Homo sapiens: one gene and its partner. The protein of the gene in region 1 interacts with the protein of each later gene in a pairwise test. Each region holds a gene or a part of one and is shown in the gene's direction. Other genes may lie near its edges.

Region 1 (3,825 bases):
GAGTCAGCGTGAAGTTCCCAGAGAGTGAACTCTGGCTAACTAATTATCTGGCTAATTTGCATCTTAAAAGGACACACGGGAATCAGTGAGGAGAATCCTAAGGGTCAGAGACTTGCTTGGCATCTTAATCGTTAAAAATAATTTACTCAGACTAGGCAATATATCCACAAAAAAATTTTTAAAAATTAGCTGGAGGTGGTGGCTCACGCCTTTAGTCCCAGCTACTCGGGAGGCTGAGGTAGGAGGATTGCTTGAGCCACTGCGTTCCAGGCTGCGGTGAGCTGTGATCTTACCACTGTGCTCCAGCCTGAGCGGCATAGCGAGACCCTGTCTCTAAAAATAGAAATAATTTACTTTGTATTTTTTCTAGATTAGAAACTCGGTGCTATGCTGACTTCCTCATAATGTGTGAAACTTCCAAATAACTTTAAAATATAATAAAGTTACCATATGCCTACTTATAAATGCCATGTCCGCTACTATATATTTTAATAATTAGTTGCCTATATTTTTGTCCTGTTTTTCATTTAGTCATGTTATTTTAGGATTAATATGGAAAATAGTTTATGTATGAAACTACAAGGATAAATTTTTTTACACATGAACTGGTTACCTCTTACTGATTTTTTTATGAAATGTGTTTGTTGCAGAAGTTTATAAATGATAGCACTGTGATATTTTTAAATTGTATTACCTTATTATTGAAATACAAAAGTGACTATATTGTTGATAAATATTAAAAATAACTTTAATCACCTGCATAGGAAAAACAAGAATATAATAAAAGTATTAAAAGCTATAGCTAAGTTTTAGAATTTTGTGCATTTTGTATGATTAATTTTTTTCAGTGAGCTTATTAGCTTTATTGCTTATCTTATTAAAAATGTGTTTTCATTATGATGAAAAAAGTAGATTCAGTATATTATACTTAAATTTCTGAAGGAGTCAAGCAGGTGAGGTAAGTACATGAGGTCAAGTAGACAATAAATTTTAACAGCTAATAAGCAATAGCTAGAATTAGGTCAAACTAGAACATATATATGTCATCTGTTGGGAGCAGACTATGCTGATTGCTGTGTAGAAATGGGGCACAGTGCCACATATTGTGATTTTTTTTTTTCCAAGAAAAATTTGTCTGGATTTTAGCTGTAGTTCATACTAAACAAATTTGCAGCAAACAAATCACCCACAGATTACTACTACACTGAAAATTTTGATTATATTCTAGTATTTTTAGGCAATTCATGATTTTTTTTTTTTTTTTTTTTTTTTTGAACAGAGTCTCACTCTGTTGGCCAGGCTGGAGTGTAGTGGCATGATGACTGCTCGCTGCAACCTCAACTTCCTGGGCTCAAATGATCCTCCCACCGCAGCCTCCCAAGTAGCTGGGACCACAGGCCTGGGTCATCACACCCAGCTAATTGTCATTTTTTTTTTAATAGAGATGGGGTCTTGCTGTTGCCCAGGCTGGTCATGGATATTTTATTTAAAATTGTAAGGGCTTAATTTTCCCCTGAATCATGTTTTTGGTATCTCCTAGCATTATTTTTTCTCTTTACTTTTACTTGAAAAAAAATGAAAAATTGACCAGATGTTTGTCTTACTGCATCTGGTTTCAGATGTCTTTTTTCTTTTTTTTTTTTTTTTTTTGAGATGGAGTCTCGCTCTGTCACCCAGGCTGGAGTGCAGTGGCGCGAACTCTGCTCACTGCAAGCTCCGCCTCCCGGGTTCACGCCATTCTCCTGCCTCAGCCTCCAGAGTAGCTGGGACTACAGGCGCCCACCACCACGCCCAACTAATTTTTTGTATTTTTAGGGGAGACGGGGTTTCACCATGTTAGCCAGGATGGTCTCAATCTCCTGGCCTTGTGATCCGCACGCCTCGGCCTCCCAGAGTGCTGGGATTATAGGCGTGAGCCACCGTGCCTGGCTCAGATTTCTTTTTTCTAATAGAGATGCGTTCTCATTATGTTGACCAGGCTGGTCTTGAACTCCTGGGCTCAAGTGATCCTCCTCCCTTCGCCCCTCAAAGTGCTGGGATTACGGGTGTGAACCACCGTGATTTCAGGTATTATTTAATAATCGAGGAAATCATAATTATAGAGGAAATAGGATATACTGTTTCTGATTAGTAATTAGTAACTTTTTATAATGATTAGTAATTAGTAGCATTTCAGTAATGTTAGCGACACAGCATGTGAGCCATCTTTTGTTGTCACCATTGTTTTTCATTAGCTGCTAATATTAAAACATTTACATATTCAAGGGATTTGTGTAGTAATTTTAATAGTAATTTGCTGCCTTTCATCTTTCTTGCATTTGAGGCATATGTGATTTGTCATTTCAGGAAAACTAATCAATTTCTATGAAGAGTGTATCCTTGAGTGATAGACTCTGAATACATCTTATAGCCATTTCCACACATGTACATTATAATGTTAGAAGACTGTGTGTGTATATATATATATATATCTTAGGAATTTTTTCTTTATAATAGCAGTACATTTATTATTTATTTTATTTATTTATTTATTTATTTTGAGACAGAGTCTTGCTCTTGTCGTCCAGGGTGGAGTGCAATGGCACAATCTCAGCTCACTGCAACCTCTGCCTCCTGGGCTCAAGTGATTCTCCTGCCTCAGCCTCCCAAGTAACTGGAATTACAGACACCCACCACCATGCCCGGCTATTTTTTTGTATTTTTAGTAGAGATGGGGTTTCACCACATTGGTCAGGCTGGTCATGAACTCCTGACCTCAGGTGATCTACCCGCCTTGGCCTCCCAAAGTAGCAGTACATTTATTAAAGAAAACTAGAAAGAAGTAGTGAGGCAAAAGCCCTCTCCAGTCTTACAGACACACACAATAATGATTTATTTCCTTTCACTCTTTTTTTGTCTTCTTGTAAGTCTTTGCCTGAGCTTGAAGGTCGGGAGTAGTTTACACAATCATCATTATGTTGCATATGCTGCTTTATATCTTTTTTTTTTTTTTTTTTTGAGACGGAGTCTCATTCTGTCACCCAGGTTGGAGTGCAGTGGCGTGATCTCGGCTCACTGCAAGCTTCACCTCCCAGGTTCACGCCATTCTCCTGCCTCAGCCTCCAGGTGGGACTACAGGCGCCCGCCACCATGCCCGGCTAATTTTTTTTTTTTTTTGTATTTTTAGTAGAGACGGGGTTTCACCATGTTAGCCAGGATGATCTCGATCTCCTGACCTTGTGATCTGCCTGCCTCGGGCTCCCAAAGTGCTGCGATTACAGGTGTGAGCCACCACGCCCGGCCCACTGTTTTATATCTTGATTATTTTTCCAAATTATTAATCTTCATAAGCATTGCTTTAATTATTGTTGAACCAGAGACAATTTCACTTTTTTGTGATATTATGATAGGTTGCTTTTGATTATATGTTGCTAAAAAGAGCACCAGCGTAGCCAACTTTATACCTGAAGGCTTTCTGAATTTAGAGTAGTTCCTCATAATAGATTTCCAACAGTTGAATTTTACTGGTTCAAAGTATAAACACTTATGAATTTCTCATATTCTTAAATTTCAAAGGAGTTGTATATGATCACTAGTAGTAGTATAAATTCCTGTTTCCATTTGTACATGTGTTGAGAGTTATTCTTTTAAAAGATCTTTGCTGTTGATAGGCAAAAAAAAAAAAACGCATTTTATTAGTACTTTTTTAAAAATAATTGTTTCCTGATTACGAAATTGAAGAAAAATTGGAAAACAAATACATTAAAAATTACCCTTAAACCCATGGCCCACACATGATGATTGCTAACATTATGGTGTAAATCCTGTCTTTTTAATGTGCTTACT
Region 2 (3,615 bases), on another chromosome or scaffold:
GAGAAACTAAAATGATATTAAATATTTTTAACTGTCTTTCATATACTAAGTAGATTTCATTTTAAACACTTAAACCTTTCTGTTTGTTTTTAAGTTGGGGAGAAATGGAAAATTGTGGGACTATGATATCGTGGTCTTGTTCCTTTGTTTATTTCGTTCAATTTTAATTAGGTCAGAAGAGTGAATGGGGGAGGGAACCCAGGAAGTTTTGGCTGTTTTCATTAAGGTTGGTTTTCTGTTTTTTGTTTTTTGAGATAGAGTCTCACTCTGTCACTCAGGCTGGAGCCCAGTGGTGTGATCTCGGCTCACTGTAACCTCTGCCTCCTGGGTTCAAGTGATCCTCCCACCTCAGCCTCCCAAGTAGCTGGGATTACAGGCACTCACCACCACAACTGGCTAATTTTTGTATTTTCAATAGAGATGGGGTTTCGCCATCTTGGCCAGGCTGGTCTCGAACTCCTGACCTCAAGTGATCTGCCCGCCTCAGCCTCCTGAAATGCTGGGATTACAGGTGTGAGCAACCGTGCCTGGCCGTTTTTGTTAAGGTTATTTGATCTGCATTATTATTACATGCCTATGATAAATTTAAATTACCTGAGTGATAAGGACATTCTGATTATACTATTGTAAAATGCCCGCTTGCCTTATATTTTTAAGTGGTTGTTTTTCAAAAGTGTTTAAATAAGGCAGTCATATTTCAAAGTATAGAGCAAAAGTTTTTTTATTATTATTTTTGAGACAGGGTCTCCCTCTGTCACCCAGGCTAGAGTTCAGTGGTGCAATCTCGGCTCACTGCAACCTCCACCTCCTGGGCTCAAGCAATCCTCCACCTCAGCCTCCCGAGCAGCTGGGACTACCAGTGTGCACCACCATGCCCAGCTAATTTTTGTATAGTTAGTAGAGACAAGGTTTCACCTTATTGCCCAGGCTGGTCTCAAACTCCAGACCTCAAACAATCCGCCCGCCTCGGCCTCCCAAAGTGCTAGGATTATAGGCGTGAGCCACCACACCCGGCCCAAAGTTTTATAATTAAACAGTATTAACAGTCTTAAATACTATTAAATATATGTTCCAGGAAATGTCTACTTTTAACCCGCAACTACTGAAAATAAGAGTCAGCATGTAGCAGCATTAATGACCCCTGAATTTGAAATGATTTCTGTTTATTTATACCTAATTGTAGTTGCTGCCTAGCCTAATAAATCTGTAGTTTTCAAAAGTTAAAAGAAACTAGTTCCCAAAGTTTTGAGTCTCAATCCATCTACTTCCCTGAATAATAAAACCTGAATTTTGTAATACCCACTTAAAAATTTTATTCTCAGCTGGGCGTGGTGGCTCACACCTATAATCCCAGCACTTTGGGAGGCCGAGGTGGGCGGACCATGAGGTCAGGAGATCAAGACCATCCTGGCTAACATGGTGAAACCCCATCTCTACTAAAAATACAAAAAATGTAGCCGGGCATGGTGGCACGTGCCTGTAGTCCCAGCTACTCGGGAGGCTGAGGCAGGAGAATTGCTTGAACCTGGGAGGTGGAGGTTGCAGTGAGCCGAGATCAAGCCACTGCACTCCGGCCTGGGAGACAGAATGAGACTCCGTCTCTAAATAAACAAACAAATAAAAATGTATTCTCTAAGGACATTTTTTTTTTGGTTACTGGTTCCTAGAGATGAAATGATTATCTTATTTTCAGTAGGCAAGGTAGTTTAAATGCAGAAATTCTGCGATATATGAATATTGTGACATCAAGAACAGCTTCATTGGCATATTCTTTGGGAAAGAGGCAAGAAGAATAAAAGGGCTAAAAGTATTTTATTTTCAGCTTATGAGTGTTGTTACTGCTTCAAATTGTGTTTAGTCACCTGAGCCATAAATCAGTTGTAGTAGGGCTATTGTATTTTAAATATATTTTTTGTTCTCCAAGGAGACTTATCTAGTTTGCCACCTCCTTGCCTATTGCTCTGATGTGGTTTTCCCTCCTTTTTTATTTATTGCACAAATATCTAACAGTTAAAAAAGAAAAATTTCAGTACCATATCAATTGTCTTTCATATTTTGTGTTCCTCCTTTCCAGTGCTTTTCTATGTAAGTAAATATTCTGATGTACTTGTAAGTAATCACTCAGAGCATAATGTAATTTTGTCTTTGGTGTCTTAAAATTTTGCAGCCAGGCAAGAGAGGTTCACAGGGAAGGTAGGAACAAGTGATTATTCAGTGTGAGGATGGGAAGAAGATCAAAGATAAGTAAGGGCAATGATTGTATCCTTCCCGTGTCATTGCCCCTAGTCCCCAAGCCACCCTCCTGCAATCATGAGTATAGTGGTGTATTGTGGAAGGCAGCATGCCCAGTTTTCCAGTTTCAAAATATATTATTTAGCAGTGAGGCTTAACTCCCAGTAAATGAAGGGGTCTGTGAGTAGGGGAACCCTTCAGACTGGTTATATTATGAGCTGTAGAACTGTTGCCATTTTGTTGTTCCCAGTTGTGCCCATAAAGAGATGTGTCTGAGCTGGAGACTTAGGCTCAGATGGGGAACAAACAGCCAAGTACCAACCTTAGTTTGGTCCAATAGGTGAATTTTAGCAACTCTCTAAACTCAGCTCTATACCTGTAAGACTCAGAAGTGATACATATAGTGATAGAAAAAAATACTTTAGAAAATAGAAAACAACTTACTGGTTACTCTGCTAATGTGATGGAGGTTGCAGAATGGAAAATGAATGAATGCAAAAAAATACAGCTGGATTGTGTGCCACAAGTTTATTACTCAATAAATATTCTGTGGTTTGACGTGCTGTATTGTATTTTTAATGTATCCTGATGAGAAAAACAATCCTAAGACATCCTGTAAGTATCAGACACGATTGAATAAGAAGGGGAATGACTCCATGAAACTATATTTGGCATCAGTAAGATTCTTCTGCCAGTTTTCTCGAAAGCGAACCATTCCTGGTCTACAAAGGAAGAAAAACAAACACTTTTAAAGTATTTTTAAATCAAAAGCTTTTAAAATCAAACAAAGGGGATTCCCTATTTACTCTTTTATATTCCTAGTAAGCAAGAAGCCTCTTTTATTGGCGGGGGAGGGGAGGTAGCTAAGGTTCTCTATGTCTATCCTTTACTGTTTCTTAAGCCCAGTCAATGAAAGGATTTATGAGCTTATATGTAAAGATACTTTAAGAGAGCTGCTATAAAAGGGATTATTATACATGAGTTAATTTTATGTGATATTGAAGTTTTCCTTAGAAACGATAGACATGACCCACTTTGCCTCCACCCCACTCCAGCAACTAATCCTCAAGCTTATAATGAATGAAAAACCAGACACTAAGAAAAATAATTTTCTAGAACAGTTTCAGCCCATTCTAATGGGCTTGGTGGTCCAAAGAAGAAAAGTGACCATTACATGAACTATCTGTTGTTGCGCAACTGCTGGATTCCTGGAGTGTGATGACCTTTCTCCCACCCTTTTAAAACAAACCTCCAAATGTTCATTACCTGTGAACTAATGCTTGGTGGTCACCTACATAAGAAACAACAATGGGTGCATCCTAAAAAAGAGAAGGACAACTGTTAGCCCAGACCAGTCATACCAACTCTTTTTGTTTTTTTCAA

The links.
Region 2: the proteins of PPIG (region 1) and NKAP interact in a two-hybrid assay, tested with the Homo sapiens proteins (one large-scale study listed by BioGRID and IntAct).

What each region holds. Positions count from the first base shown.
Region 1 is NC_000002.12:169,590,673-169,594,497, forward strand, and holds part of PPIG (peptidyl-prolyl cis-trans isomerase G), read left to right. Parts: intron 1-3,825. UniProt on the Homo sapiens protein: PPIase that catalyzes the cis-trans isomerization of proline imidic peptide bonds in oligopeptides and may therefore assist protein folding. May be implicated in the folding, transport, and assembly of proteins.
Region 2 is NC_000023.11:119,919,847-119,923,461, reverse strand, and holds the end of NKAP (NF-kappa-B-activating protein), read left to right. Parts: 3' UTR 1-2,790; downstream 2,791-3,615. Other genes in the region: AKAP14 (A-kinase anchor protein 14), read right to left, coding at 2,855-2,954, 3,499-3,551. UniProt on the Homo sapiens protein: Acts as a transcriptional repressor. Plays a role as a transcriptional corepressor of the Notch-mediated signaling required for T-cell development. Also involved in the TNF and IL-1 induced NF-kappa-B activation.